Linked DNA regions of Homo sapiens. The protein of the gene in region 1 purifies or fractionates together with the protein of each later gene. This does not show direct contact. Each region holds a gene or a part of one and is shown in the gene's direction. Other genes may lie near its edges. The genes, in order: OSBPL11, VAPB and VAPA.

Region 1 (7,112 bases):
ATTCCAGAGAAATTTATATTAGTTCTTTATTTAATAAACATGTGATGACATGCAATATATTTTAATTTTGTATAAATTCTTTGCTATACTTTCTGCAAATATTTCACTAGTCCTCAGATTTAATTTCATTTTTTTTGACACACAGAAAACTTTTAAGTCAGACCTCTTATTCCTCTTTTCCATCCATTTCTAATTATAAAAAGTAACTTTTATAAGTACTTGGTTTTGGCTGGCACTGTAGCTCACCCAAAGTGTTGATCCTTAGCACTTTGGGGCGCTGAGGTGGGAGCATTACTTGAGCCCAGCAGTTTGAGACTAGCCTGGGCAACATAGAGAGACCCCATCTCTACAAAAAATTAAAAAATTAGCCAGGCATGGTGGCATGCCTACTCAGGAGGCTGAGGTGGAAGGATTGCTTGAGTTCTAGGCTCCAGTGAGCTGTGATTGTGCCACTGCACTCAAGCCTGGGTGACAGAGCAAGACCCTGTCTCAAAAATAGTTAAATAAATAGTTGTTTTCATGAAGTTTTAAAATAATTTGGTAGTTTTACAATTTAACTTTTTTTTTTGAGACAAGGTCTCTCTCTGTCTCCCAGGGTTGAGTGTGGTGTCTCCATCATAGCTCACTGCAGCCTTGAACTGCTAGGCTCAAGTGATCCTCCTATTCAGCTTCTGGAATAGCTGGGACTACAGGTGTACACCACCATGCCCAGCTAATTTTAAAATTTTTTTCTAGAGGCAGGATCTTGCGATGTTGCCCAGGCTCATATTTAACTTTTTAATCTATCTGGAATTTATTTTGAAATACAGTGTGAGATAGTGTATCTACTACTGCATTACAAATTACCCCCAAATTTAATATATTAGCAGCATTTATTATTTCATAGTGTCTTTGGGTCAGGAATCTCAGTGCAGCTTAGCTGGGTCTTCTGGCTCTGAGTCTTTCTTAAGACTGAACTGGGAAGGATTCATTTCCTAGCTGATTCATGAGACTCTTGGTGCAATTCAGTTCCTTTTGGCCCATTGGACAAAAAACTCAGTTCCTCATGAACTGATGGCCAGAGACCTCCTTTGTTCACTGGCCACATGGGCTTCTTCACAGAGCATCTTACAACTTGGCAGCTTGTTTCTTGAGAATGAGGAGGTAAGAGGACTAGAGAGTGCTACCTGGAGAGAAGTTAACAGTCTTTTGTAACCTAAGCACTGAGGTGAATTCACATCACTTTTCACTGTTCTTCAGAAACAAGTCCCACACAAGGGTGTGAGAATACCAGCAGGTGGGGATTATTGGGATTTATGCCAGAAAATGCCTAGGCAGTTAATATAATAGACTCAAGATTGTAAAGACTAGAGGGGAAAACGGACTTGGGGAGTCAAATTATGTATCTGGTTTTAGGTATGTCCAGCTAAAGTTGCCAGAATGTTTAAGTGTCTTATCTAGCCAGTCCTCAGAGATATGGAGTATTGGAAATGTAGATAATTGTCTTTACATTATCCAGAATGTTTTCACATCTGTTATCACATTTAATCCTCCCAACTCTGGAGGAAGATACAGCATTATTATTCCTGTTTTGCAGTTGAAGAAAACCTAAGTCTAAATGACAATATAGACTTAGGCAATATAGTACATGAAGTTATATATTGCATGTAGCTAAGGTTACATAGCTAGTAAGTGGGAGAACTTTTATTTCTAGATAGATATTTACATAGAGGTATTAAAAGTAGATAAACTCTCTAAAAGGAATGAATAATTATTGATAATAACTAGTTTGGTACATGGTTGGTTTTATGGTTTACTCATGTTCTAACTTATGTAGCAAATATTTTTGAGTCTCTACTATGTCTGAAGCACTCTTTTATTAATGCCAAATTAATGTGCACACCCAAAACAACGAAAGAATGAATTCTAAGGCTTATTTTAGGAGGATCATCAAAATAATCAGGAAAAGGAAGGGCATCAGTGGCATTTACAAAACAATCTCATGATGACCTTTTGAAAAAAAAAATTTTTTTTTTGAGACAGAGTCTGGTCCTCTTGTGCAGGCTGGAGTGCGGTGGCAGATCTTAGCTCACTGCAACCTCTGCCTCCCAGGTTCAAGTCCAAGCGATTCTCCTGCCTCAGCTTCCCAAGTAGCTGGGACCACAGGCACTTGCCACCACACCCGGCTGATTTTTGTATTTTTAGTAGAGATGAGGTTTCACCATGTTGGCCAGGCTGGTCTCAAACTCCTGACCTCAAGTGATCCACCCACTTCGGCCTCCTGAAGTACTAGGATTACAGGCGTGAGCCACCGTGCCTGGCCCTTTTGAAAAATTAAACTTAAGAACTTAATTTATTAGATTAGCCTTGTATTTTCTTGTTTCCAGAGTAATTTATATTCATATGATGTGAGCTTTCTTTACCATTTACAGAGAAGATAGATTTCCCAGTTCTGGGTCTTTCCTTCCTTTTTCATAGTGAATATTCACACTTTATAAAATATGCATGTTTTCATTATTTTTGTATTCTTCATGTCAGCTTGTAGAGAAATTCACAAATCTGCAAATATGCCACCTGCTTATTAAAATGGGCAGAAGAGAACTATTCAAAAGAGGAACTGAAAGACAAACCAGGGTGTTTGATGGCCTGCTTTTTTTTAAAATTTTGAGCTCCTCACTGGCTAATCATATTAACAGATAAATCTATTTTCCTCATTAGCAAACAGCTATACTTTTCAGTAAATGTGTAAAAGTCTGCAAATGTGTAGTATAGAAATAATTTTTGTGGTCAGACCACAATAATTTTGTGGTTTCTTCCACTGTCAATACTATTATAAGGAAAAGTGCCTGTTCGCGGATGGGAAAATGAGATTGGCCTAAATATAAATGAATGTTCATGGTCTTAGAGGTTTTACCTCTTCTTCTGAGTTGATTTGAAGAAAAAGTCATAAATGTCTGCTTTTTTTTTTTTTTTCCTCTGCAGGGGTTAAAGGAAAATTGATACATATTTCTACACTCTAGTTTTTGTTTTCTGTATCTGACATCTGCTATAGATGCTGGTAAAAACAAGAGAAAGATAATTGTAGGCATGTAACTGGAAACTATAAAATATTATTCCAAAATCTAGTTAAAAATATACCAAGTCTTGAGGAGCAAGAGTTGGTTTATTAATAATGTGCTGTGATTTCTTAGTTTCCTTACATTTTTGCACTACATATCTTTTCTGTTTTGTTTTTTTTTTTTTTTTTTGAGATGGAGTTTCACTCTTGTTGCCCAGGCTAGAGCACAATGGTGCAATCTTGGCTCACCACAACCTCTGCCTCCTGGGTTCAAGCGATTCTTGTGCCTCAGTCTCCCGAGTAGCTGGGTACAGGCAGGTGCCACCCGGCTAATTCTTATATTTTTGGTAGAGACGGGGTTCCACCATGTTGGCCAGGCTGATTTCGAACTCCTGACCTCAGGCGATCTGCCTGCCTAGGCCTCTTAAAGTACTGGGATTACAGGCGTGAGCCACCGCACCCGGCTTTGTCTACATTTCTAATCATTTGTCATAGATGGGATACCTAAAAGTGAAATTCTAGGGCCAAAGAGTGCTAACATTTTTAAGACTCTTGGCAGGAGGGAGGACCCCTCTCTTGACTTTATACTTTTTGTCATAGATTAAAATACAGTTAGACTTTATTTTGTTTGCGATTTTGAGTATACAGTCTGCGAGTTGAATTTTTTGGGGAGGAGGTGGGCAGGTTACTGAGAATTGCCTCATGGCTTCATAGAAAAATTCTGTTTCTTTCTTCCCATTGCTTAATTCATTCAGCAAATAAACATTATATCCCAGGCTACACACTAGCTGTTGCGAGGAATATCTCTTAATGTCATTAGCCTTTTCCTCAGCTAAGCAAGCCACTCCCCGCTTCATGCTATTTCTTATCCAGAGAATGGACCAAAGTGCTAAGCCTTTTGGGAGGATACTTTTTGCCTAGTTGAAAGTATGGATTTTGACATGTGACTTGCCTGGTACCTCATATTTACTGACTACAACTTGGATTCCTGCCTGTAGTTAAATACCTTAAGGTATCGCTATTTGGCTTTTCCAGGAAAATAGAACCAATAGGTAGATATATATAGAGAGAGATTATGAGGAATTGGCTCATATGACTGTGGAGCCTGAGAAATCCCATAGCTCAGTTGTCTACAAGCTGGAGAACCTCTTGACATTATCGTCAACCTCTGATGTTACTTCCAGCTGACTGCCCTCATCATTCCATTAAACTGTTATCTCTGGGTTTTAAGTCTAATGAGTCTTCTCAGTCTTTGTCATATCTTACTTTATCAGTAGCACTGAACTTCTCTTTTTTTTTTTTTTTTTTTTTGAGACAGGGTCTTACTCTGACGCCCAGCCTGGAGTACAGTGGCAGGATCTTGGCTCAGTGAAACCTCCGCCTCCCAGTTTCAAGCAATTCTCCTGCCTCAGCCTCCCAAGTAGCTGGGACTACAGGCATGCACCACCACGCCCAGCTAATTTTTGTATTTTTAGTAGAGATAGGGTTTTACCATGTTGGCTAGGCTGGTTTTGAACTCCTGACCTCAAGTGATCCACCCACCTCAGCCTCCCAAAGTGCTGGGATTATAGGCATGAGCCACTGTGCCTGGCCTGAGACAGAGTCTTGCTCTGTTTCCCAGGCTGGAGTGCAATGGCACGATTGCAGCTCCCTGCAGCCTCCACTTCCTGGGCTCAAGCAATCCTCCCATCTCAGTGTCCTGAGTAGCTGGGATTACAGGTGTGTGCCACCCTGCCTGGCTAATTTTTAATTTTTTTTGTAGAGACAGGATCTCACTGTGATGCCCAGGCTGGTCTCAAACTCCTGGCTCAAGTGATCCTCCCAAAGTGCTGGGATTACAGGTGTGAGTGAAGGCACCTGCCCACTGAATATTCTTGACCACAGACTTATCTTGAAACACTTTCTCTGGTTTCTGTCTTTCCATACTCCTAGTTTTCTTCCCACTACTCAGTTGTTCCTGATTTCTTCTCTGTATTCCCCTTGCCCTTAAAACTTTTCCTTAGAGATCTCTCTTAGACCCTGCCCATCTCTTGCCATTTCGTAATACTTCCTGAGTGACCTTATTTACTGCTGTAACTTCAAATACCAGTTATATGCTTATATGCTGATGACTACCAAGCCCTAATCATGCTGCCTTACTGGATATCTCCCTGTATAGTCCTGCAGGTTCATTAAATTTAACATCTTAAGTTGGAACAAATCCAAAATTTCTCTGCGATCCCTATCTCAGTGAAGGCATTAGTTATCCACCCAGTTGTTCCAGCTGGAAATCTGAGTGTTGCTCTTGTCCTTTCTCTCTCACTTTCATTCTTTCTGTCTCACTTCACATCTAATCAGTCATCAAATCTAGTCATTTCAGCCTTCTCACTCACTACTGAATCCTCTGTATTTGTTTAATGCCTTTTTTATTTGTATGGCAGCTGCAAATGTAGTCCCATTGTGTGTCTTTTCCAGTAGCAGGAACCCATGTTACTGCCTTTTTCTTCAAGGAGATATATTTCTCTTAGATTAGATTATAGATTTGAGATGGAGAGTTATTAGTTATTGCCTTTTTGATTTTCTTATGCTTTTCAATGGTTTTTCAGAGTGCTGTGCTTTAGTAGGTATTGAGTAATTGTTTTGAGTTGAAAGGATTTGAAACTGTTTAAAAGGTAGCTTAATTTTAAAAACTTTTATCTATCTTAAGTCTGATAAAGAAAGGTTGAGAAATAAGTATATTGCCGGGCACGGTGGCTCACGCCTATAATCCCAGCACTTTGGGAAGCCGAGGCAGGCGGATCACGAGGTCAGGAGTTCGAGACCAGCCTGACCAACATGATGAAACCCCGTCTCTACTACAAATAGAAAAAGTAGCCAGGCATGGTGGCACACACGCACCTGTACTCCCAGCTACTCGGGAGGCTGAGGCAGGAGAATCACTTGAACACAGCAGGCGGAGGTTGTAGTGAGCCAAGATTGCACCACTGCTCTCCAGCCTGGGTGACAGAGCGAGACTCCATCTCAAAAAAAAAAAAAAGAAATATGTATGTTATAGTAATGGAGATTAAAGAATTGAAGCAGTTATTTTTAAGATATTTAAGAGAAAATGAGTATCAAACTAAACACAATATAATAAAGCCACTTAGCACAGTTTAATCAGTTATTTTTATAGACTATCAGCTTCCACTACTAATCCCAATTAAATGTTAACAAGTTTAAAAGATTAGAAATATACCCAGTTTCTTGAGCAGTGAAGTTTTTGGAGGACTGAAGAAGAAATTAACTTTATCATAGCTTATTTTTTAGTGTATTAGTCTGTTTTGGACCATCACTTCTATTTTATAGAACACAAAATAGTATAATATAATCAGATATGTGGTATGTTCCCACTTCAGTAGCTAGATTTTATTAATATTAACAGACACACATTAAAAATATTCTATAAAAATTTGCACATTTTATTTTATTTACTGTTTTTAGAGATGGGGTGGGTCTCCCTATGTTGCCCAGGCTGGTCTCAAACTCCTGGACTCAAGGAATTGTCCCACCTTGGCCTCCCAAAGTGTTGAGATTACAGGCATGAGGCACTACACCAGGCCCTGAAAATTCACACATTTTAGATAGGAATAAAGCATGAGAGTTAGAGATACTGTGTAGTAACTCAATTATAAGACAGTAGAAGAAAAGAAAGTGTGAATCAGATGTTCAGTCACAGAGCACTTTTTATGCTGACCACCAGATGGCACAGTTGTTCCACACCAGCTGGTTGCCTTCGATAGTGGCTATTTCTTGGGATACATGGAAAAGGGGAAGAATGAGGGAGGGACATTGCAACCAGCTGTTCCAAAGAATAGGATGTTTTCAAGTTGGTTCTTTGTAACCTGGAGACAGCTGTTTTATATAATAAAAATAAGCCAGCAGTTTACTTACTTGAATTTCTGCCTCTTTTGAAACTAACTTTATGCTACTACCAAATAAACCATGTCAATATCCTTATAGTTTTGTTTTTTTTTTTTTCAGAAAGCTAACTCTTTAGATATATGAATCAGCAAAATATTAATAACATTAGAAAATTAAACAGAACATTACTATGATG
Region 2 (7,112 bases), on another chromosome or scaffold:
CAAGGATTACCTTGATTAGCTATATGAGAAATGGGTTGGAGAGAAGCTACAACAGTTCCTTAAATGTTCTTAAACATCTTAGATTATTCTATTTAATTCCTGAAGAGATCATTTGGATATGTTTTCTTGAGCAAAACAGGCAGATGGTGTTGCTACCCAGTTTCCCAATTCTGTAAGGCCTGTAGCAGACATTTACGGTAGGCTTGCAGTAGTGAAAGATCCATGGACTAGGAATCAGAAGACTGGGTCCTCGGCCTTATTCCCAGCTCTGTCATGCGTGATTTTGTGGCTCTTAGGTTGGTGACCTGCAAAATGGAGATGTTGGTCATCCTTGCTTACTTCACCAGGGGCGTCCATCCTAAGACATAAGAGAATGCCGGTAAATTGCTTTACAACCAAAGTACAAGTATTAGCATAATAAATGGCACTGACAACCAAGCTCTGACCCTCCTAATGAAATATTTTCTTTCTCAGTGATGTTACAGCCTTTCGATTATGATCCCAATGAGAAAAGTAAACACAAGTTTATGGTTCAGTCTATGTTTGCTCCAACTGACACTTCAGATATGGAAGCAGTAGTAAGTACTGAATGCTTCTTATTTTTTTCAGTAACAATAATTTAAAAAACCAATTAGATATGGAATTGTGGGTGCATGCATTTCAAAATATGTCAAAATTATTTAAAAGGGAATAGTTTTTTTTCAAGGAGGTTTGTACTTTATCTACCTTTATGGTTTTTCTAAAACTTTGAGGAATAATTTTAACATTTTTTGTGACTTTCTAGAAGGCTGTTCTTTTCTGACTTTCCTGAGCTCAGTGTGCTTCAGCAGCTCCTTGCACTGGTGGATGGTGTCTTGCATGGTTAGGGATTGCCTTCTTTCGCCTCTCCTTTCTGCCCCGACAGAAAAGGATACTTTTCATTGTCCCGCCTTTTTCTTACTTGTCTTCTCATCCCCCACAAACTCAAGAGCCATGTGAGAGTGTCAGTGCTGAATGTCCTCACCCATTTAGACATACATGTTTGTGGCTTTGTTCTAGTAAATATGCTTATTTATTTTCCCCCCTGCTTAAATCTATGTTTAACTTTTCTCTAATTTTGATAAAATTAAGATGACTTCATTTTTATAAAAGAAATAAGTGATGTTAGTGATGGTTTTGGAAAAAAAAAAAAGAGTATAATGGACATTCCCTCCAAAACGAGCTTTTTATACATTTGAATAAGTCCATTGGCATTCTGGGGCTGGGAGTTGAATTGAAATCTACAATACAACCCACAGCCCCAGCAGGGACAGATGCGCTTGTCCTTACAGTTCAGGAAAGCAGGACAGGGTTGCCTCATACCACTTGCATTGCTCTCCAGTTTTGGCCCGCCCAAAGGGGAGCCCCGAGTCATCCACGGCAGGTCTGCCCACCTGAGTCCGCTGTTCATCACACCATACTGCAGTTCTCCTCTGTCTGAGTTTCATACCAAGGGCAACTCAGGCCAAGACCACCCCATGCCCTATGTCACCACATAGCCTTTTGTTTAAGTTCTGGAGAAGCATCTCCGCTGATGTTTCACTTGTAGGCAGAAAATGAAGGAGGAGGCCAGATATTTTTGACTTTTAGAGAGATCAGTGATAATAGGCTGTCTTCTTTTCATAAGAACAATTCTTATGAAAACTTTCTCTGATTTTCTGCAACATGATGTGTTACTTCATGTTAATTTGTGTGATCAAAGAAACATGGCAGATAGAAAATAATGGAAGATCCAAGGGTGTGTTCTGTTTGGCTTCTGCTGCATGGCATAGTGAAAAGAGCATGGGCTTGGGTGTTTTCGAGCTGAGTTCTTCCTTTTACTGACGTTGTGGCTGGGAGCAGGTTTTATTAACTCTGTTGAGGTTTTGATCATTTGTAAAATAGGGATAAAAATGCAGCTCACACAGTGGTGAGTATGAAGTGTGCCTGTGTAAGTGCCTGGTGGGTCCAGTGTCTGACACTTGCTTATCAGAGTGTGTAATAGGCCAGTCACTGCATATCTAGTAAAGGGTCATTTTAGTTCCTTGTATGATGATATAAGTTTAAATTTTTTTTATATAAAATGTACATTGTGGGAAATTTTGGAAATACACAAATGAAAAAAATTTAAAGTGACCCATAGTTCTTTTCTACTAGGCCTAACCATCATTAATGAGAAATGAGAGCTTTGTGTTTTTCTTCCTTTTTTTTTTTTTTTTTTTTTTTGGAGACATGATTTTACTGTGTCACCTAGGCTGGAATGCAGTGGAGTGATCTCAGCTCGCTGCAGCCTCCACCTCCTGGGCTCAAGTGATCCTCCCACCTCAGCCTCCCAAGTAGCTGGGACCACAGGAGCGCACCACCATGCCTGGCTAATTTTTTTGTAGAGACAGGTTTTCTCCATGTTGCCCAAGCTGGTCTCAAACTCCTGGACTCAAGCGATCTGCCCACCTCAGCCTCCCAAAGTGGTAGGATTACAGGCATGAGCCACTGCCCCAGCCTGCTTTTTCTTTATTTTAAAATGTTTTTCTTTTTATTGTGATATACAGAAAGTTGAAAAAATAGCATGGTGACCACTCATATAACTTTTACCTAGATTTACATTTGTTAACATGTTGTGACATTTGCTTCCTTTCTGTCACAAACTTTCTTATTTGCTTGAGATGCAAATTTATGACACTTCACCCCTAAATGCTTCAGAGCAAGGACAGTCTCTTATATAGTCATGATACTATTAATCATAGCTGAAAAAAGTAACTTCAATTCAGTATTATTATGTGATAAATTCATATTCATTATTTCCTAGTTGTTCCAAAAGTGACCTTTAGTAGAGGACACCCAAACCTTTTTGTTTTTCAAACTTTGAACTTTTTTTTTTTTTTTTTTTTTTTTTGAGACAAAGTCTTGCTTTGTCACCAAGGCTGAAGTGCAGTGGTGCAGTCATGGCTTGACCTCCACCTCAGCTGTTCGAGTAACTAAAACTACAGGCATGCCACCATGCCGGCTATTTTTTTATTTTTTTATAGAGTTGGGGTCTCACTATGTTGCCCAGGCTGGTCTTGAACTTCTGGGCTCAAGTGATCCTCCTGCCTCTGCCTCTCGAAGTGCTGGGATTACAGGTGTGAGCCACTGCACCCTGCCCAAACTTTGAACTTCTTTTTTTTTTTAAGAGTCCAGGCCAGTTGACTTACAGAATGTCCTGTATTCTGGATTTATTTGATTATTTCCTCATGATTAAATTCAAGTTAAATGTGTTTTGGCAAGAATATTCCATAGTTGGTATTTCATACCAGGTTGTTCCGCTGTTGGTGATGCTGTTTGATCACTTGGTTAAGATGGTGACTGCCAGCTCTCTCCACTGTCATAGCACAAAGCACATTTGCCCCTGTGGTTAATAGGTAATCTGTGATACTCTGAGTCATCTGATACTTTGAGACCATGTGAATATCCTGCTCGCCAGCAGTCTTTCACCTGGTGCTTTTAGCATTCAGTGATGATCCTTGCTTGATATTTTTTTTGACTTATGTGGTAGGCACACGTGTACAGGTGTGTGTGTGCAGAGGAGCAGACTTCAGTATTCTTTGCGATTTTTTCACTTAACATTCTGGACATTTTCTCCATCTAACTGAGTGCTCTTCAGCATCATTTGAGTGGCAGCATGCTGTTCCGTTTAGTGGATCTGCCATAATTTTTGTGGCAGTCCCCTAGGGTCAGATGTATAGATTGCTTCCCACTTTTGGTTCTTGGTACCTGTGTTACAGTAGCTGCCTCTTGCATGGTTTTGGGAAGGGTTGAGGGCATGGAGGGTGGGGGTGCCTTCTTTTTCTATATCATAACCTTGCTGCTATCCTGGTCTGTAATCCTAGAATACCCTGGAATTCCCATCTTCTGCTGCCAAAAGGAGAAGTAATCAGGAGCGTATCCTCTTAGGACATGGGATTTAGCTAGGAAGGTGCTCTCACTACAGCCTGGAGGGATGGAGATGGGTCTTGGGGTAGACACAGCCCACACACTGCCACAGTGACAGAGGAGGGATTTGGTAATGAATGTGTTCCGTTGGTAGTTGGCAGAGTGGTTCTGAAACTAGTCCCAGATAGTATGCGCTTATACTTTCTAGATATGCCTTTAAAATAAGTTTCATTTTCTCATTTTAATTTAATTTATTATTTTTGAGACAGAGTCTCTCAGTGTCCCCCAGCCTGGAGTACAGTGGCATGATCATGGCTCACTGCAGCCTCCACCTCCTGGGCCCAAGTGATCCTCCCTCCTCAGCCTCCTGAGTAGCTGGGACCACAGGCATGTGCCTCCATGCTTAGCTAATTTTTTAATTTTTTTGTAGAGATGACGTCTCCTTACGTTGTGCAGACTGGTCTCAAACTGCTGGGCTCAACCAGTCCCTCCACCTCAGCCTCCCAAAGTGCTGGGATTACAGGCATAAGCCACCATGCCCAGCTGAAAACAAGTTTTATTTTCATAAGGAGAGCCAAGGTTACCTGGTCATCCAGACATTGTTTAGAGGATTCCTTTTTGTTCAGTGGTGGGCCTGTCCCACAGAGTAGCAACATGGGGAGCATTGGTTGACTTTGAGGAGTCAGGCAGCAAGACTTCAGGGTTTATGAAGTGTAATATTTTGAGAAAGTGAGTGTATTTAATCTTGTCATGTTACAAATATTGAAATCTCAGCAGACTTCAGTTCTTTATTTGATATACATCAGGGCTTTCTCATTAAGAGTATTTTTCTGAAATTGTCAGTTATAGGAAGAAAGTTATTCTTCCAGCAGGTTTATAATATCTTGATTATTAAATTTAAATTGTTTTAGTGGAAGGAGGCAAAACCGGAAGACCTTATGGATTCAAAACTTAGATGTGTGTTTGAATTGCCAGCAGAGAATGATAAACCAGTAAGTATATTTATAGTTAACAATAATTGAATGTTGTAAGCTGATACTTATTTGCATACCATTTCCTGCAAAACCAAGATTTAAGTTGGCAAATTATTTTCCTTTATCTGATGTCTGAAGAAAAAAAATAAGCTGAAGTCAGCAAATAAGTGGGCCTTTATGAAATCAGCCTTTGAAAAACTCACGGAAAGACAACTGATTGACAGTGTTTCCCCTTGAAAAGTGCAGCCCGATGGCCATTGAGATGTCATAAATCCTGAAGAGCTTCTGTGGCCTGGCAAAGGTATAGGTTGCTGTTAAACAGTGGGTGAGAGTGAAAGAGGGAACAATTTGCCCTTTATCATGGTGGTTGATGGACGTGTGGGAAGCTTTCAAGTTCTCTTGTTTTACAAAGTGCCCTGTCAGCCTCCCTACCCCTTTTACCCTATCTACCTCTTCAATCAAAGGCTGCTTTTAGATGAGGATTTCTCAGCCTCAACACTGTTGATATTTGGGGCAAATCCTTGGTGGTGGTGGAGGTTGCCCTGTGTACTGTAGGGTGTTTTATTAATAGCAGCATCCCTGGCTTCTGCCCTCTTGATACTGGTAGTACTTCCCAGTTGTGACAACTAAAAATGTCTCCAGATATTGCCACATGTGTCCTGGAGGGCAATATCAACCCCCATTGAGAGTGATCCCATTCCGGTGTTGCCTGTGGGGAGAAGGAAGGAGCCCCATCCTCTAGGCTGTCCACTGTGAGCGCTTTACCTTTCATGATCCTCACTTGTGACCAGTTGAAGAAAGGAGACTGTATCTGAAATGCTAATTTGGACTTCCCTTCAACCTAGTCGAAAACATTTTAATTTTTATAAAAACACCAAAACTGTGAAAGCATGCAGCATGTGAAACTATCCTAGCCATTAATAGCTGGAGTTGGGAAACAGAAGTACCCTGAAATGTTGTGTTAACAGTATCTATGTTGGTCTGCGCGAGTGCTGTTGATTTGTGTCAAAACTACCTGAGATTTTATTTCTGCTGAATCATTTACCACTATCATTACCCTGTTTCTTTAAGTGGATAGTGGTCATTTTTTCCCTCTTCCCAGTGTACATCCTGTCACAGGAAGGTCAGTTTGGAAGCTGTGAAAGCAGTATTCTGGCCTCAGCTCTGTGATAGGTTGACTTGGTAGCCTGGGGCCTTGCTTCACAGGGCCTACTCTTCTCATCTGGAAAATGATGGGTAGAGCTAGATTCCAGGCCAATGATCGTCAGTTACTCTTTCCCTGACAAGCTGCGTGCTTCCATGCCCTCCCTCCACTGACTGGCTCTCATCCCCTGTAAATCTCAAGAGGGGATCATAGCTGAATCTTGGCAGGGGAAATAAGGGGAGTATGTAACTTCCCAAGATTGAAACATTGCAGACACTGAGTTTGTTTCACCTTCATCCCAGCTTCCAAATGCTAAGTTGGTAAAGTAATTCGCCCTCTGTCTAATGCTCTCCCAAGCCTCCTAACCCCACTAAGGCAATCCTAGGGATGTTCACATCTTTGTGGTGACAGTAATTTGTGGCTAATAATTCCTGAGCTTGCACAATTACAGTATGCTGATTTTTCCGTGGCAGGAATTTGATAGTGCAATATACACAGCCCTTTTTCTCTTTCTTTGAAGTATTAGTCTCAGCCGAACTTCATTATTTGCCCTTATCCATAATTTCTAGGGCCCTGTTGCTTTAGATTATTAAGATATCAGATAAAGTAATCCATTTTTAAAATAAATGTGACATTTTACAGTGTGGATGAAATGCTACCACGTTTGGTGTTTGCTGAGAACTACTTTACTTTGCATAAAAAAGTCCATTATTACATGGTCGGTGACACTTAGGCTTTCATTTGTTTTTGAACAGCATGATGTAGAAATAAATAAAATTATATCCACAACTGCATCAAAGACAGAAACACCAATAGTGTCTAAGTCTCTGAGTTCTTCTTTGGATGACACCGAAGTTAAGAAGGTTATGGAAGAATGTAAGAGGCTGCAAGGTGAAGTTCAGAGGCTACGGGAGGAGAACAAGCAGTTCAAGGTAATAGTTTATTTTCTGGTAATCTACAGAAAACAAGGGCGTTTTCACTAGCTTCTTGGGTGGGGAAGTTGATGAGCCAGTGAATATATAGATTTCTTTTTGCTTTTGGTATTTGGCTATTTTTTTCTCCCCAGGGAGAAATTTCCATGGCTTTCA
Region 3 (7,112 bases), on another chromosome or scaffold:
GCCATCTCAGGGTATAACTCCACCAGGGAATGCTCCGACTGTCACTTCAATGAGCAGCATCAACAACACAGTTGCAACACCTGCCAGTTATCACACGAAGGATGACCCCAGGGGACTCAGTGTGTTGAAACAGGAGAAACAGAAGGTTTGTTATAGGGAGTTAACAGACTTAGGAGTCTACTAGTGTCAATGGTTAAGTTAATGTAGATACCTAGCAGATAAGTGGTATTGTGAGTATGTTGTATGAAGTAGATAGAATTGAACTATGCCTAAAATTACAATAAAACTACAAAGCACTTAAAAATCATGCATACAAACTATTCTGTTCTAAAAAACTTCTGAACTTAACTAAAATCTATATAGTGAGCAGGACAGTATAAGTGTGAACATTATGAAGTTGCTGTAATTTTTTTCTTTGAGATTTGGGGAATATACTCTTTTTTTTTTTTTTTTTTTTTTTTTTTTGAGATGGAGTCTCGCTCTGTCACCCAGGCTGGAGTGCATGGCACAATTTCAGCTCACTGCAACCTCTGCCTCCCCGGTTCAAGGGATTCTCCCACCTCAGCCTCCTGAGTAGCTGGGAGTACAGGCACGTGCCACCATGCCTGGCTAATTTTTGTATTTTTTTGGTAGAGATGGGGTTTCACCATGTTGGCCAGGCTGGTCTCATTAAACTCCGACCTCAGGTGATCCACCTGCCTTGGCCTCCCAAAGTCCTGGGATTATAGGCGTGAGCCACCACATGTGGCAACCCCACAGTTTTAACAGATTGTTTATACTTTGATTTGGTTTTGCAGATGATATGCATACTAAGGCTTTAAAAAATTATCTAAATGTTTAATAATTTTTTGTTTTTGTGATTGGGAATTATTTACTTCTGGGAGTCATGATCCTAAAGAAACAGTAAATTGGCTGTTTAGAGTGGGAAAAAAAAACTTCAGGTAACTTTGTTACTTAAATCCTGTCTCTTAATTCATAGGTTAAGACCTTAATTTTGCCTCTCTCGGTTTATGACAGTACTCTTGACTTTAGCCTTTTAACTCCCTTTATGTGCGTTTTTATCCATCACTCCTGTTAGTTGTAAGAATGTAGGCCCACGTTTATGTCTTTTATCTCCTTTGTTCTTCCCAAGGCTTCTTTGCAAACTTTTTCTTGTATTTCCAATTCCTAGTTCCCTCTTTTTCTAATTAACCCCCAGTAAAAATACTTGGGATATTAGAACTGAAATTCTGATGGTTAAAAAAGAATACAGAAGTACAGTCATGCATCTGTTAAGGATGGGGATATATATTGAGAAATGTGTTGTTAGGTGATGTGTTGTATAAACATCATAGAGTGTACTTACAAAAACCTATATATGGTATTGCCTTTTGCTCCTAGGCTACAGACTTGTATAGCCTGTGGCTGTACTACAATGGTAAGTATTTGTGTATCGAAACAATCTACACTGAGCTTATTCAACCTGCAGCCTGCGGCCCACACGTGGCCCATGATGGCTTTGAATCCGGCCCACCTCAAATTCGTAAACTTTCTTAAAACACTATGAGTTTTTTTTTGTGTGATTTTTTTTTTTTAATAGCTCATTAGTTAGTGTTAGTGTTAGTGTATTTTATGTGTGGCCCAAGACAATTTTTCTTCCAGTGAGGCCCAGGGAAGCCAGAAGATTGGACACCCGTGACTATACACAGAAAAGGCGCAGCAAAAATATGGCATAAGAGATAAAATTGTATACTTGCATAGGGCACTTACTGTGAATGGATCTTGCAGAACTGGAAGTTGTTTTGGGTGGGTCAGTGAATGAGTGGTGAGTGAATGGGAAGGCCTAGGACATTACTGTACACTGTAGACTTTATAAACACTGTACACTTAGGCTACATTTATTAAAATTTTTTTCTTTAATCTTAGCTGTCCGTAACTTCATAAACTGTAAAATTAAAATTTTTGACATAAAGCACAAGCACAGTGTATAGATAAATAAAAATATCTTTTTAATGTCCTTATTCGCTGCCTTTTTCTATTTTTTAAATAAGATTTTTAAAAAAACTTCTTTTCTTAAGACTAAGACATAGCACACACATTAGTCTAGGCCTGCACAGGGGCGGGATCATCAGTATCACTGCCTTCCACCTCCACATCCTGTCTCACTGTAATGTCTTCAGGGACAGTAACACTCATGGAGCTGACATCTCCTATGTTAACAGTGTCTTCTGGAATACCTCCTGAAGGACCTGCTGGAGTCTGACTTAGAGTGTCCTTTTTGTTTTCGTAAGTAGAAGGAGTACACTCTAAAATAAATGATAAAAAGCATAACAGTAAATACATAAACCTGTAACATAGTCATTTATTACCAAGTATTCTGTATTGTACATAAATCATATGTGCAATACTTTTATATGACTGGAGTACAGTATGTATATTTACACCAGCATCACCACAAACGTGAATAATGTATTGTGATAAGACCTCACTAGGTAATAGGAATTTTTCAGTGCCATTATTATTGTATGGGAACACTATCATATGTATGAATCATTGTTGACCAAAACATCATTATACAGAACATGACTGGACAACTCAGATGGAGGATTACTGCAGATAGGCTAAATAATATAGTGGAAACTGGACAAGATTGGTTTATTGTTTTAGTTGATACACACCTTGACCTTCCAGCTTATTCTGAATTGCAGTGTTAAATGTAAGGTTACCATTCATCAATTTACTAAGAGTCACAGCATGTTGAATCTCTCTGGTGTGCTTGTTTCATGGTTCTCAGAACAACCAGTCTTTTCTTTCTGGACCAGTTTGAAGCAACTCTCAAGAAACAAGCTGTTTTATTGGAGCCAAACCTCACTAATAGAGGTCCTGGATGGAAGCATATACTTAAAGTTACACCTGCTTAATTTTTTCCATCAGGCTCTTCAGATTGTCACTCCATGCATGACTCAAAGCCCACCCTCCCATCACACTTCCCCCCATTACATATACATATATAGCATAACATATACATATGTAGCATATGTATATGTAAATAAATTAGATTTTCTTGCACCTGTTATGTATGTTCACTGGTTTGTAAGGGGCCTAGGTAGTATGTGATATAACTTATTGGGCACACTTTTGAAATGTGTTTCGGCTTCACTGTATTCTTTGCATTCTATTCTGTTTATGCTCCACATATTGGTTATCATTTCTTCTCCTTTTTGTTACAAAAGCAGTATAACATTTTTAAGAGAAATTCAACAACAAAAAAATCTAATTCTATTTGCTTAGATAAATTCTAATCTAATTCCAAGTCTAATTCTATTAGAATTAGAAAAATCTAAATCTAATTCCAATCTAGTTATCTTTTTATGGAATGTCTTCCTATGGACATGTTATTTAAAATTTGAAAGAATGGAAAGCTGCCCATCAAATGCTTAACAAAAGTGAAATGTTTAATTTTGGCAAGGCATAGAATAGAATATTTAATGACATGTCATTTAATAATAGTAATATAAATAATAGTTTTGTTGATTTGACAAGATTGTGAGAAATGACTTTTTCCCTTCCCTCCGTAATTTAAAATTTTATGCAATGTAAAGAATTTAAAAATAATCAGTTGTCGAGCTTGATGATTCTTTTAGTTTTTTTTCTCTTTGGTGTTGACCCCATGTATATCTTTTTTTCCCCCTTTTGGAGATAGGGTCTCACTCTCACCTGGGCTGGAGTGCAGTGGCACGATCTCGTCTCATTGCAACCTCCGCTTCCTGGGCTCAAGCCACCTCAGTCTCATGAGTAGCTGAGATTACAGGTGCACACCACCATGCCTGGCTAATTTCTAAAATTGTTTTTTGTAGAGACAGGGTCTCCCTCTGTTGCTCAGGCTGTTCTTGAACTCCTGGGCTCAAGCAGGCCACCCATCTCGGCCTCCCAAAGTGTTGGGATTACAGACATCAGACATGGTGCCCTGCTTCATCCTCTTTAAGTTTTTATCAGTTTTCTGGTATGAGTATGATACTTTTTCCCAATTTTTAACCAAAACCTGAAAGTTCTTCTATTGCCATATTGGTGGCCATTGCCACCTCCTTTATAGAGTAAGTCAGTGTGCCAACCTCATTATCAGAAGTTGGATTTGTGCTAGGATAGAATTTGACCACACTGAAAATCACAAATGAGTTCTAACTACTATTAAGGAAAAGAACAGGAAAAAGTATTGGCAGGGTAAAATATATCTGAAACAGTTTTTTAATAATAGGGGCGGCTATTATTAGATTGGTTGGGGTGGGAGAAATGGGGGTGAAGAACAAAAAAGCTAGCAAGAGAAAAACTCAGAGAATTGAAGTAGGCTGCTTTAAAACGTTGCTTAACTGGGAAGCTTGAAGAAGAATGGAAGAGTCTGCCGACAGGTCACATACATGCTGTTGTTCATTAGAACCTCATTATAAATTTTCATTTTTAAATAGATTTTACATGGATTTAGGCATACTAATCAAATCACATCCCCTTCATAAGAATAACAAGTTTTGCCCTTTGAACAATCTGTTTATACTTAATATAAAATTGGCAGCTGGGATGGTGTGGTAGGTGTGCAGCCTCTGATAAATCTTATAAAATGAGTATTGTGGAATGCCATAAAGTTGATTTAGTAAATGTCTTTTTTAGCAGTTTATAGCTGAATAAAGCAGATTTTACCTAAAATTATTTTAAAGTAAGTGAATTTAATTAAAATGAAAAAAGCTTGTTACACTAATACTGCTACGATGTGTGGTGACATAAATGCTGTTGGAGTGAAGGATGTTGGGGTACTTTAGACAACGGGCTGAAGAATACATAGGTGCTGTCATAGATATTTATCTCCAGGCCTTCACTAGCTTCAAATGGTTCAATGTTGGTGAGGATTAAGATTTTGGGGCTCATAGTCTTCAAAGCATGCTAAGTGCTCCTGTGATGTTGAATCACGTGAATTAAAGCAAACAGCATTACTAAAGATGACAAATTAATAGAAGTTAGCTTTTCTTGGGCATGTTTTTTCTTAGGTAGTTTCCGATTTTATTGGAATGATTACGATAATATCCCCCTACCCCCCAGAACCTTATTTGAATTGCACAACCAGAGCACGGAAAATGACCTTCAATGGATTTTGTTGACGTCATTCAGCATACTTTCATTGAATAACTACTCTTGACCAAAGTGCTGGTTTTAGGGGTAAATACAAAGAGAGATGGCTCTTGCTCTCTCAGCCTTTGAAGTATTACAGGAAAGAACTTGAACAATAATTATTAAGATACATAATAAAGTGCTATGGTAGAGGTACGTGCCAGGGATTATGGGAATAGAGGGAGTGGGCTGGTTATTTAGACTAATCTGACTGCTGACATGTACTGATTTAGGCCTTTTAAAGAGTTTTTCATGAACAAAGATGTAGAATTTATATTGTTATTTGTTTAAAACCTGTAAGGAGATTTGGTTAGTTAAAAAATTCCCAATATCTTTGTAATGCAGAATGATATGGAACCTAGCAAAGCTGTTCCACTGAATGCATCTAAGCAAGATGGACCTATGCCAAAACCACACAGTGTTTCACTTAATGATACCGAAACAAGGAAACTAATGGAAGAGTGTAAAAGACTTCAGGGAGAAATGATGAAGCTATCAGAAGAAAATCGGCACCTGAGAGTAAGTTCTGTTGGTTGAAAATAAATTGATTGAAATGAAGGTATAGGACATGTGAGTGTTATTAGGCCATTTTAGCAATTAGCTTTTAAATTTTTGCTTGGTCAGTTCTTTCTTCTTTGCCCCAGTGCCTTTGCTCCCCACCCTACTCCTCTTTTAACAGTCTTCCCGTGGTTTCTCATTGCTGCAAGTTCCTTACTTTAGCACACATTCTAATTATTTGTGATCTGGCCTGCAGTATTGCCAGCTTCTGCTCTTGTTTCTCATGTCCTTCCCATTTTGTGCCCTAGTCATACTGAACTGCCTAGGATTGTGTTGTCCCACATCATAGCCATTAGTCACCTAGGGCTGTTGAGCACTGAAATGGGATTTGTTCAAATTGAGCTGTGCTGTTGAGTGTAAAATACTGATGTTGAAGAGTTAGTACAGAAAAAGGTAAAATCTTTTTTTTTTAATGGTTACATACTGAAATAGTAGTTTGGGTATATTGGGTTGAATCAAATATATTATTAAAATGAATTTTACCCATTTCTTTTTACTTTTTAAATGTACTGTTGGAAAATTTAACTTTACATACGGGGCTCACATTTGAAGCTCACATTGTATTTGCGTGGGGCAGCATTGGGCTGGAGTATGCTGGAGAAGCATCTGTTTATCACCCCTCTTTGCTTTAGTGTAAGCTCTTCACTGTGACTGGAAAGGCCCAGAACCCTGCCCCTCCCGACACAGCACATACACACATTGACGTTTTGCTACTACAGCATATAGCCTTTGCTGGGACCCTCTCCAAAAGAAGAAAAAAATCGATTTGTCATGTCTGCTTTGTGCCTCCACTATGCTGATCGCCTTCTACTGCTCTTACTTGTTAGAGGCCTTTCTCCCTCTAGTGGGCAGTAATTGCCTTGGTGGCAAGGGCAGTGCTTCATTTATCTCTGCATTCACCATACATGCATGTGGTAGTCATTCATGTATTTGATTGAATTAAATGGATGGCGAAGGAGGACTGATTTGAATATGTCTGAAATTTATGAATAATTTGTCTTTGACAAGTAATTACTTGTTTCAAGACCTAAATACCTATACGTTGCTCTCTAGGCTTTGTTTGAAGCTCTTTGCAGCAAAGTAGATGATACAAAAATGTATGTAACTAAAATAAGCTAAATGATGGGAGTTATTTGATTATTCCTTTTGTTAGGTGTATGTAGGAACTACACTCTAAATTAAAGGCACTGTGTTTTAAGTCGATCTGTGAACTCCTTTGCTGAAATGCTTTTTAAAGTGAATTTTTGTGTCTCTTCATGCTTGATGTTTCATAGTACCCCCTCGAGGGGTACCCGTCTGCTTCCAAGCACTTGTCTGGGTAGCGGAAAGAATATCTTTATTTCACACCTACACGCCATGGATCTTTTAAAGGATGTTGTTGGTTACTTTTACTTCATCTGCCATGACTTCCATAGTTC

What was found.
Region 2: the proteins of OSBPL11 (region 1) and VAPB purify together in Homo sapiens (affinity purification with mass spectrometry; 6 studies listed by BioGRID and IntAct, with this or other methods). This does not show direct contact.
Region 3: the proteins of OSBPL11 (region 1) and VAPA purify together in Homo sapiens (co-immunoprecipitation; 5 studies listed by BioGRID and IntAct, with this or other methods). This does not show direct contact.

Annotation. Positions count from the first base shown.
Region 1 is NC_000003.12:125,585,458-125,592,569, reverse strand, and holds part of OSBPL11 (oxysterol-binding protein-related protein 11), read left to right. Parts: intron 1-7,112. UniProt on the Homo sapiens protein: Plays a role in regulating ADIPOQ and FABP4 levels in differentiating adipocytes and is also involved in regulation of adipocyte triglyceride storage. Weakly binds 25-hydroxycholesterol. Interacts with OSBPL9 to function as lipid transfer proteins.
Region 2 is NC_000020.11:58,434,128-58,441,239, forward strand, and holds part of VAPB (vesicle-associated membrane protein-associated protein B/C), read left to right. Parts: intron 1-474; coding exon 475-578; intron 579-4,817; coding exon 4,818-4,898; intron 4,899-5,018; exon of another isoform or gene 5,019-5,181; intron 5,182-6,779; coding exon 6,780-6,956; exon of another isoform or gene 6,957-6,957; intron 6,958-7,112. UniProt on the Homo sapiens protein: Endoplasmic reticulum (ER)-anchored protein that mediates the formation of contact sites between the ER and endosomes via interaction with FFAT motif-containing proteins such as STARD3 or WDR44.
Region 3 is NC_000018.10:9,944,914-9,952,025, forward strand, and holds part of VAPA (vesicle-associated membrane protein-associated protein A), read left to right. Parts: intron 1-10; coding exon of another isoform or gene 11-145; intron 146-5,481; coding exon 5,482-5,655; intron 5,656-7,112. UniProt on the Homo sapiens protein: Endoplasmic reticulum (ER)-anchored protein that mediates the formation of contact sites between the ER and endosomes via interaction with FFAT motif-containing proteins such as STARD3 or WDR44.